3 linked regions of the Homo sapiens genome follow. The protein of the gene in region 1 interacts with the protein of each later gene in a biochemical or structural test. Each region holds a gene or a part of one and is shown on either strand. Other genes may lie near its edges.

Region 1 (3,600 bases):
CATTGATTCTAATTAAATGTTTTATGAACATGTAAAAATTTTGACCTTGAAGTTCATAACATTTTTTTTGCTTATAGTTTTCATACCGATCTAGAGTTCGTCCTTGCGTGGTTTATGGTGGTGCCGATATTGGTCAGCAGATTCGAGACTTGGAACGTGGATGCCATTTGTTAGTAGCCACTCCAGGACGTCTAGTGGATATGATGGAAAGAGGAAAGATTGGATTAGACTTTTGCAAGTATGTTTTATTTTGTTTTTGTTTTTTTGTTTTGTTTTGTTTTGTTCTTTTGTTTTTGGCAGAGTTGCGCTCTTGTTGCCCAGGCTGGAGTGCCATGGCGCGATCTCGGCTCACCACAACCTCTGCCTCCCGGGTTCAAGCGATTCTCCTGCCTCAGCCTCCCAGGTAGCTGGGATTACAGGCATGTGCCACCACGCTGGGCTAATTTTTGTATTTTTAGTAGAGGCGGGGTTTCTCCATGTTGGTCAGGCTGGTCTCGAACTCCTGACCTCAGGTGATCCGCCTGCCTTGGCCTCCCAAAGTGCTGGGATTACAGGTGTGAGCCATCGCACCCGGCCAAGTATGTTAATTTTTAAATGTATGGGATGCAGTATTAAAGTTACTGCCCATTAGTTTTGTGGTGATGTTAACATTGTCTAAATGTTAAGGCTGAGAAGTGATGTATTTCAGACATCTAACTTTCACAAAAAGCTTGTTCATGGTAATTTTAATGTTGAAAAATCAGTAACATCTTGGTTGAGACTTACAACAATGATCAGCTCGTGGGACAGTCAACTAGGATGGGCTAATTTGACTGTGTAATCTTGAATGACTTATGTAGTGGCAAGAATCCTGTGCTGTGTCTGTAAAATTATGCAGTGTGAGGCACCATCTTAATGAATATATAATTGTAATAACCTATACAATTGTATTTGTAATTATACTAACAGCCATACTAAAACCATGTTGATTTCTCCTCAAATTCTAAACTCAGGCTTGTTTTTTTTCATGACATGACAGATACTTGGTGTTAGATGAAGCTGATCGGATGTTGGATATGGGGTTTGAGCCTCAGATTCGTAGAATAGTCGAACAAGATACTATGCCTCCAAAGGGTGTCCGCCACACTATGATGTTTAGTGCTACTTTTCCTAAGGAAATACAGGTACTGTTTGATGTTGCAAATTTTATTTATTTAGAAATTTGTTTATCTCAGGTAATAATAAAAATTTTTTTTCTTTCAGATGCTGGCTCGTGATTTCTTAGATGAATATATCTTCTTGGCTGTAGGAAGAGTTGGCTCTACCTCTGAAAACATCACACAGAAAGTAGTTTGGGTGGAAGAATCAGACAAACGGTCATTTCTGCTTGACCTCCTAAATGCAACAGGTAACATTATGAATTTTTTATTTTATTAGACATGGGGGTTTCTCTTTGTTGCCCAGGCTGGAGTGCAGGGGTTATTCACAGGTGTGATCTCATTACTGATCAGCATGGGAGTATTTGACCTGCTCTGTTTCTGACCTGGGCCTGTTCACCCCTCCTTAGGCAACCTGGTGCTCCCTTGCTTCCGGGAGGTTACCATGTTGATGCCAAACTTAGTGTGGACACCTGATAGGCATAGTACACTACAGCCCAGAACTCCTAGACTTAGACAATCCTCCTGCCTCAGTCTCCAGAGTAGCTGGGACTACAGGCACTCACCACTGCACCCAGCTAAAATTATGAATAATTTAATTGCTCTGGTAATAACCCATTTGGGCTGGGTGCAGTGGTACAGTGCATGTAGTCCCAGCTACTTGGCAGGCTGAGGCTGTAGTATGCCATGATTGCACCTGCGAATGGCCAGTGCACTCTCAGCCTGGGCAATTTAGTGAGACCCCCATCTCTTAAATGTATTTGGATTACCTTTATTACTTTTCCTCCTCAATTCAAAACATGCTGTGTTGAAAGCCCGTTTTTAAGAAGATATATATGTATTTTAATTGACACATTAAAATTGTGCATACATAAGTGCAAAGAGAACTAAGCCATGTTAGTGACAAAAACCTATAATTTTTCAACGACAGGCAAGGATTCACTGACCTTAGTGTTTGTGGAGACCAAAAAGGGTGCAGATTCTCTGGAGGATTTCTTATACCATGAAGGATACGCATGTACCAGCATCCATGGAGACCGTTCTCAGAGGGATAGAGAAGAGGCCCTTCACCAGTTCCGCTCAGGAAAAAGCCCAATTTTAGTGGCTACAGCAGTATGTATAAACATCTTTCTTTTATTCAAATTGAGCATGTTCAAGTATTTGTTTTCTTTTAAGTGGGCCATATCTCATAAAAGTTATTTTCCAGGTAGCAGCAAGAGGACTGGACATTTCAAATGTGAAACATGTTATCAATTTTGACTTGCCAAGTGATATTGAAGAATATGTACATCGTATTGGTCGTACGGGACGTGTAGGAAACCTTGGTAAGTATTTGATTACTTGATGGTTTCATTGTTTTTTGCTGTGATGTGTGCAGGAAAGAACTTGCTAGGATCTAAAATACATTTTTAACAATGAAAGTGACAAAGATTTTGCTCAAAGCACTTGTTTAAATATTACGTGGTAATATTTTAAATATTTCTACGTAGGAAAGTAAGAATAGTAGCAAGTTACTTTATGGAAGACCTTTGTTTATATACTTTTTTGGGAACTCTTTTAGGCCTGGCAACCTCATTCTTTAACGAGAGGAACATAAATATTACTAAGGATTTGTTGGATCTTCTTGTTGAAGCTAAACAAGAAGTGCCGTCTTGGTTAGAAAACATGGCTTATGAACACCACTACAAGGGTAGCAGTCGTGGACGTTCTAAGAGGTGAGGTATAAATAGTATATAATGAGGGGAATGGGTGTTCACTTACAGTTCATAGTGTTTCCTCTGCATGCATAACGTCCAAGGTTAACTGTACAGTATTTAAAAAGCTTAATCATCTTAGGCTTCCTAGATTCTTTGGTAAGGGGTTGTATTAGAATGGGTGACACTCTGTTGGGGAAAATATGGCTGGATGGGGAATTGTTTGAATGGAAAAATTAGAAATTGGTCATTAGGAAAGAGTTAGGTTACTTTAGTGGAATTTCATCTTCATGTGAACCAACATAATTTTTTTCTTATAGTAGCAGATTTAGTGGAGGGTTTGGTGCCAGAGACTACCGACAAAGTAGCGGTGCCAGCAGTTCCAGCTTCAGCAGCAGCCGCGCAAGCAGCAGCCGCAGTGGCGGAGGTGGCCACGGTAGCAGCAGAGGATTTGGTGGAGGTAGTGTTAATCTGTAACTTCATAGCTTTGGGAAGGGTTTTTTTCCTTTTAGTCATCTTTTTCAAAGCCTAATTAAACAATTTAAGTTCAGCACTATAGAAACTTGATGGCAAATTACGTAAGGGAAGGATTGTATTTAATGATGGATAACTTCATTAATTTCTCTCTCTTTTTAAATCTCTCATTAGGTGGCTATGGAGGCTTTTACAACAGTGATGGATATGGAGGAAATTATAACTCCCAGGGGGTTGACTGGTGGGGTAACTGAGCCTGCTTTGCAGTAGGTCACCCTGCCAAACAAGCTAATATG
Region 2 (3,829 bases), on another chromosome or scaffold:
AGCAAGATCCTGAATAAATAAATAAATAAGCCGCAGCCCCTGACCTCACAGAGATCACAACCTAATGAGGGAGATATACGGGGATCCCAAGGAAGAATGCGATACTACCCATGCAAGAGTCCCAAGAGGATGACAAGGACCCTGGGCCCAGTCTGAGGAGTGGGAGCAGTGGCAGGGGAGGCTGGCTATAAATGTAATGTTTTGCTGATCTTTGAAGGGTGAGAGGAGTTAATTAGTGAAGACGGTGGAGTTCAAGCCTTCTGGAGAGTGGGGAAGAGCAAACACAAAGGCCCTGTAGCAGGAAGTTTTGCATATTTGAGGAACTGAATGCAGAGAGATGCACCAGAGGAGAGTGGGGGGCGCCTTGGGGCTGGAGAGAGACCAACAGGGCTTGACCTGGCATCTAGACCAGGGTCAAGGGTTTGGTCTGCATCAGGGAGTAATAGGAAGCCTAGTGAGAGGGCAAAGCAGAATAGGTCCCAGGACATGAGCTCTGCATCATGAAAATCCCTCTCTGGCTGCAGCGGCAGATGCAGAGGGTTTAGGAAGCTGCTACAGTCATGGGGCGACAGGTGATGGCAATGGAGAACAGGCAAGCAGTGCTAGGATCAGCAGACTGAGTCAGGAGATTGAAAGAAGTGAAATTTGGCAATGGATTGGATATGGGGTGATGAAAAGGGGGTGTCAAAGAGGAATTCTAGATTTCTCCCCCAAACGGGCCATTCCCCCACCAAACACAATAACAAGCCCTAGCTTATTCAAAACCCATCCAAGTTGGCCTCAAGATCACAGGCCAAAAGAGCCTATCTGTCCAGAAAGTCCAAGCATTAACATCAAGTCCCCAAAAATGCTTTAGGAAAGATCCTAAAATGTCAGGATGAAGCAGACTCCCCACCAGCCTCCAGACAGAGGGCGGATGTTTCAGGAGCCCTGAAACTCAGGCCCCAGTGCTCGGGATCACGCCCCAATCTCCCATCCCAAAACATTTAGGGGACCCATCGGGTTGCAGGGTTCCACAGGGGGCAGCATAGGGGGCTGCTAAGGTCACCTGAACTGGGGGTGGGCTCCTGGAGCCGCCCGATGCACTGCTTCAGCTCGTTTTTGAGGTCTATGGTGCTCTGGTGGATGCCTTTTATCAGCTTGTGGTTCAGTTCCACCTCGGGGATGTAGACTGGCTTTGTTGAGATTCCTCGCAGTTTTGATGCTTTCTGGAACATGCCAGGGGGTTAGTGCAGGCAGCTCTGGTGAAACGGGGACCTGGGCTCAGTCCTCACCAACCCCAGGAGGCTCTCCCCTATGCCCAAGAGTGCTAAGTCCAATTGGCCTTCTCAAATTACAGGCCAGAGGTCACCAGGAGTTTAAATGACACTTGAAGACACAGTAATCTGGAGCTGGAGGGGACCCCAGAGGTCACTCATCTTACAGATGGGGAAACTGAGGTCTAGACATGGCAGGAACTCCACCAGCTAGGGGCACAGACACAGCTGGGACTGAGATCTTCCGATCCCCCAGGACAATGTTCTTTCCACTTTTCCAGCTAAAGGTGGAAAAGCACAGGAAACTCAGGACCACCCCAATCCTAGGGGAACAGCTCTAATCACACATTCTGGTAACAGACAGGGACATCTCAAGGGATGTGGATTGCAGCCAGGGAATATCTTATGGGAAGGGAGGGTCTTCCTGGAAGTCCCAAACTTTGAGAAAAATAGGGTTGTACAGTATCAAGAAGCCTAGATGTGCACTCAGATCCTTCGAGAGCTCGGGGCAGCTGCTCCAACAGACAGGAATGAACACTTGGGATGAAACTTAACGCCATCCAGACTAGGCACGCATCAGGCCTCAGTGCACAGAGACAAGGTTCCCATTCACTCCTGCACTGTCTCCCCACCCCCTGATCTGAACAAGGAATCTGGGTCTTTCAGGTATAGCTGCAGGTCACTCAATCAATGGGGCACACCACTATATGCCAAGCACTCTGCTATGTGCTGGTCAGATTGGCAGGAGGATGAATGGGGGTAATAAGAGATGGGCTTACAGTCAAAACAGCCATGAAAAAATGCACATCTGAAACAACATCACCCAATGTTACTGTAGAAACAGTGTGGCATGCTTGGGAACACCGATACGGCATGGCAATGGGATCCAAGGCCCTGGAAGGATACGACTCACTAGGCAAGAATGCCCAGCATGGCATCCCACCCACACCCACTGTGTCTGGGGAACAGTGAGTGCATAGGGCATGAGCCAGGGATGGATGATATGAGATGAGACTGCTGGCACAGGCGGGGCCCAGTCACCTAGGACCCTGCAGGCCATGTTAAGGGACATGAGGCCAGAAACAGCAGGGGGCCCATGCTTTAGACAGATACTTTGATACAGTCTGGATGTTTGTCCCCTCCAAATCTCATGTTGGAATGTGATTCCCAGTGTTGGAGGTGGGGCAGGGTGGGAGGTGTTCGTGTCGTGGGGGTGGATTCCCCATGCACCGCTTGGTGCCCTCCCCATGGTAACAGGTGAGTTCTTGCACAAACTGGTTGTTTAACGGAGGCTGGCACTTCCTCCTCTGTCTCTTGTTCCCTCTCTAACCCTGTGACATGCCTGCTCCCAGCTTCACCTTCTGCCATGAGTAAAAGCTTCCTTCCTCACCAAAGGCCTAACTAAAAGCCAAACAGATGCTGGTGCCATGCTTGTACAACCTGTAGAACTGTGAGCCAAATAAACCTCTTTTCTTTATAAATTACTCAGTCTGGTTGGGCGCAGTGGCTCACACCTGTAATCTCAGCACTTTGGGAGGCCGAGGTGGGTGGATCACCTGAGGTCAGGAGTTCGAGACCAGCCTGGCCAACATGGTGAAATCTCGTCTCTACTAAAAATACAAAATTAGCTGGGCATGGTGGCGTGCGCCTGTAATCCCAGCTACTCAGGAGGCTGAGGCAGGAGGATCACTTGAGCCTGGGGGCAGAGGTTTCAGTGAGCAAGATCACACCACTACACTCCAGCCTGAGCAACAAGAGTGAAACTCCATCTCAAAATAAATACATAAAATAAATAAATAACTCAGTCTTAGGTACTCCTTTATAGCAATGCAAAAGGGACTACTAACACACACTTCCAGGAGCTGCTGGAGGAAGGATGGGAGGAAGAGGTGGAGTGTGAGTGGCAGGCAACGTTCTAAGATGGCCCTCAAGCCCCCGACCCCGACTGATGTACATACCCTATAGTATGCCCTCCCCTTCAGTATCGGCAGGACGGTGAATGAAATAGGATATCACTCCTGTGATTAGGTTATGTCATGTGGCAAAGGGGGTGGAATATTGCTGGTGTAATTAGCATCTCAAATCAATTGATTTTGAGTTCATCAAAGGGCAATTATCTGGGGTGGGCCTGACTTAATCAGGTAAAAGACCTTAAAAGAGGGATTGCATCTTTCTAGAGGAGAAATTCTCATGCTGGCCTTGAAGAAGTCAGCTATCAATCTGAGAGACAGCCAGCAGGAAATTGCGGGGGGCCTCAGTCCTACAACCATAAGGAACTAAATTCTGCCAACAACCACATGAGCCTGGAAGACAACCCTGAGCTCCAAAGGAAACAGCCTGGCCATCCCTCGCAGACTGTAGCCTGGTGAGACCCTATGCAGGCCACCCATAAAGCCATGTCCAGATTCCTGAGCCAGAGAAACTCTGAGAGAATAAATATGTGTTTTTTGAAGCCCCTACATTTGTGGTAAGTTGTTGCCCAGCTCAGAAAACTAATACAGCGTGTGTCTCAGGGATGCTTCCAGTGACCTCTTCCAGTCTCCCGCTCCTTGAGGGCCCTATCATCAACAGCA
Region 3 (3,829 bases), 260 kb from region 1:
TTAGTTGGTCACACAACAAGTGTCTTTGAGCTTATTTTTATTTAATAAGATCAATTTCTAACGTTTTAGTTTCAAAATTTTAGTATTAAAACCAATCTTTGTTTAAAACAGATGTTAAGAATTAGTTATTTGAAATATCTAGCAGTGTGTGTTAATGGATTAGTGTTCTTCTAAGTCTTTTGGGCAGTGAAGGTGAGGGGGGTCTTATCCTGAGATTGAGTTAGTTGATTTTTATTCTGAAAGAACGTATTACTTTTTATGGTAGCCTACATTATGTTTCCCCTCTTGTAGGTATGTTTTCTGAGTCTTGAATTGTTTTTCTTTTTTTTTTCAAAAAGGGAAAAAACCGGATTTTAGTTGTCATTTGGTTCTTTTAGGAGCTGTGTTTTTGAAAGCCATCCTGTGTATTGCTAAGTTCTTGTATTATTTTAACATAGAGTTTAACGTTAATATTTGGGAAAGAGTTAGTGCATTGGACCTCAACCCTGACTGGACATGAGAATCACTTGGCGGGGTTAAAAAACAACCACAACAAAAAAACTGATCCCTGGGTTCCACCCCCAGAGACTGATTAATTGGTCTGATAGGGAGCCTGGGCAAAGGTATATTTTAAAAGCATTGTGGATGATTCTTACATGCATTTGGAGTTGAAAACCACTGGGCTATTGTTTTTATCATGTTGTTAGAACTTTCAAGTGGATAAATAAGAAAATGGATTTTTTTCTCAATTGTTTTCAGTTATTAGCATGATTATCATTTGAGCATTAATTGTCTGTCAGCACTGTTAAGCATTTTCCATTTATTGCCTTACGATGGGTCTGAGGTCTGTCAGGTTCAACCAGTGGTGCTTCGACTACTGTGCTATGTTAGTGAAATGACACTGATTGCTATTTTTAAAAAAGCATTTAGAGCTTTTGGTTTGTTTCTCGTACCAGAGTAAGTTAAGATATAGTTTAGTTTTTAAGACTATCAAGATAGTCTCCAATTTGATAAATATCTTGGTTGCCCAAGGGAGATGTTAAAAGCTATGTGGCAAATAGGTTTCTCCCCTTCCATATATCTTCCAGCGTGCTCAGGGTGATAGTTTAGTTGGTGCGTTTATGACAAAATATTACACAACATTCCTAAAAGGTGTAGAAACTATGCATTTGTCTCCTAGTAATTTATTTAAATGATCCCACAAATTACCGTTTAGTGTCACATGAAATTCTGTTATCTCAGTTTGAGAATTTAGAGTTTTATTTGTCTTAGTCAAAATCAGTTTGATTTTGATTAAGCGTTTTGAATTTTGTGTTGTTTTGGGATTGATGTATAATTGTTTTATGGAACGAATGAAATAACAATAACAGACATTTATTTGGAGTTTCTGTCTCTTAATCCCCTTGGTCCATTGGACCAAATTCTGCATGGTGGGGGCATGGCAGCAGGGAAGCCTATAGGAGTTTAGGATCTATGAGGGTTTTTTTTTTTTTTTTTTTTTTTTTTTTGAGACAGATTCTCACTCTGTCACTGAGGCTGGAGTGGTCACGGTTCACTGCAGCCTCCACCTCTCCTGGGCTCAGGTGATCCTCTCCCCTTAGTCTCCTGAGTAGCCGGGACTACAGGTGCTCCCATGCCTGGCTATTTGTATTTTTTTTCTCTTTTATAGAGATGGGTTTTGCCTTGTTGCCTAAGCTGGTCTTGAACTGCTGGGCTCAAGCTGTCTGCCTACCTGGGCCTCCCGAAGTGTTAGGATTCCCGGCATGAGCGACTGGGCCCGGCCCTATGAGCATTCTTAGTGTGACACAAGATTCCCCAAAGATCTTTTTGTTAAATTATAGAAAATGAGACTATAAGGATCATGAAAAAAGTTGATGTAATAAGGAAAAAGACTTAAAACTTCTAACACTTACCTATATTGGGCATTGAATTTATAATTTATTGTGGATTATAAAGTGATGACCATTGTAATATACTTTTAAAGAATAACTTGTGAAAAAGTATATTGTTAGGATGAGATCGCTTACCTAAAATTTATTCTTCAAAGATACTCATGCTAAATCTTGGTGTCTTCAACGTGTGTATACACACATATCTTATATTTGGCAGCAAATGGATTTTCAATTTTATTCTCAATCACTGCCTAACAAGGATTTTCTACCACCTCTGTGTATCAATCATCTGTGGAGCTTTTTCAAAATATATATTTGCTCTATAGGTGAGTCTGATGTGTAACCAGAGGTTTTTTTTTGCAGTCCCTTTTAGGGAAAGGGGAGAATTGAGACCCTTTGCATGTCATGTGTTCCACCATTAGGCAGCAGTACTCTTGTTTGAGTTTCGTTTTGTTAGTCACACAGTCAAAAATTCCAGACTGAAACACAAACATGTAGTGAAAAGCTCAAACACTAGAAGAGACAGGGATTCCACACTCACATGTATTATATACAGTATATGTGCACATATATATCAAATTTATTGTCACTTAGCACCTTCTCGGTGTTACGGTTCCAGCTCTACTATAAACATTAATATCTGTTAAGACATTTGTTTCCTTTTTAATCCGTTCAACAAATACTTCTGGGGCATCTGCTGTGTGCTAGGCACTGTTCTAGAGATTACTGTTGTCTAGAAGCTAACATATGAAGTGAGGTGGGCTGGACTAGCTGATCTCTAAAGTCTTTAGTGCTAGTTTTCTGGCATTCTTTTATGTACCTCGTAGGAGAGATTGGATTAAGTTGTTATTTAAAAAAACTTTGTTATGGTATATGCCAATTGAATTTTTTTTGTCACTAAATAGAATTTCATTCTGAACTCCAGTTTTCTCCAGTGAGCCCAAATGTCAAGTATAGTAGAAATAGGTTCTTTTGGAATTCTTGGCATACTGGCTTTAGGAATAGCTGTACTTCTGATGCTGTTAATTTTTGACCAGAAATTACATACTCTGGTGTCACCCCTTACTCCTGCCATTCCTTTGCTGTATTGATGCTCTATTATCTCTATACAGTGTGTTTTTCTATTTAATTTACTTTGTTTAGGTGTTTTGATTAATTTTGTCCTCACAATTCTATCTTTAAGGTTAGTGGCTTTCATTCTAAGTCAGTGATAATATCCTTAGCACCTAGAAAGTGCCTGGCATATAGACATTTAGTAACTGTTGGATGAATATAGTTTATCACATTCTTGCTATTTTACTTATTTTTTGCTAAATCTTTTTACTTCTGGGAGTCACTTTTCTTACTAATCTCATTACAATGAGAAATCCTGGAAGAGATCTCAATTCTTTCTAGTCAGACCCTTCATTTTTCAGATGAAAAAAATGGCTCAAAGAGGTGAAAGGTGAAGTAACTTGACCAAGATAGCATGCCATAGACTACCTTCTTTATGAAGCTATATCTATATGTGTCAAATCACATTAATTATTAAATTCTCTGTAGTCACTCATAAAATTAACATTAAACTGTCTCCCTGGTAATGGATAATAAGGTCAGGGATTCTGTCCTTTACCTTTGTATATTACAGAGCACCTAGAATAATACTGTTTATAATAACCATTTGATTACCTGAATGGGAAAATCTGGGGCAGTATTTAACTTGCAGTACCTCCAACCTCTTGTACAGAATTGATTCATCTTCATTTTATGGCACCCTACAGTTTATTCTTATTAATCATGTGAGCTTTGAACACCATGTTAGTCAACCATAATCAAAGGAATTGTTTTCCTTGGGATGAGTTTGAGCTGGTGATCGTGCATATTAGATCCCATCTTCTACAGAGCCTGTGAATTGGGTGGAAAGGAAAAAGGGAGTGGCGAAGCCTCCTGTTAGTATCCTTGATGTCCATTTTATTCCT

Evidence for each region.
Region 2: of the proteins of DDX3X (region 1) and TRIM25, one has a biochemical effect on the other in vitro, tested with the Homo sapiens proteins (one study listed by BioGRID).
Region 3: the proteins of DDX3X (region 1) and USP9X form a complex in vitro, tested with the Homo sapiens proteins (one study listed by BioGRID).

What each region holds. Positions count from the first base shown.
Region 1 is NC_000023.11:41,344,162-41,347,761, forward strand, and holds part of DDX3X (ATP-dependent RNA helicase DDX3X), read left to right. Parts: intron 1-77; coding exon 78-238; intron 239-1,018; coding exon 1,019-1,163; intron 1,164-1,242; coding exon 1,243-1,387; intron 1,388-2,067; coding exon 2,068-2,249; intron 2,250-2,343; coding exon 2,344-2,461; intron 2,462-2,697; coding exon 2,698-2,851; intron 2,852-3,150; coding exon 3,151-3,290; intron 3,291-3,478; coding exon 3,479-3,558; 3' UTR 3,559-3,600. UniProt on the Homo sapiens protein: Multifunctional ATP-dependent RNA helicase. The ATPase activity can be stimulated by various ribo-and deoxynucleic acids indicative for a relaxed substrate specificity.
Region 2 is NC_000017.11:56,900,371-56,904,199, forward strand, and holds part of TRIM25 (E3 ubiquitin/ISG15 ligase TRIM25), read right to left. Parts: intron 1,209-3,829; coding exon 1,049-1,208; intron 1-1,048.
Region 3 is NC_000023.11:41,088,445-41,092,273, forward strand, and holds part of USP9X (ubiquitin carboxyl-terminal hydrolase 9X), read left to right. Parts: intron 1-3,829.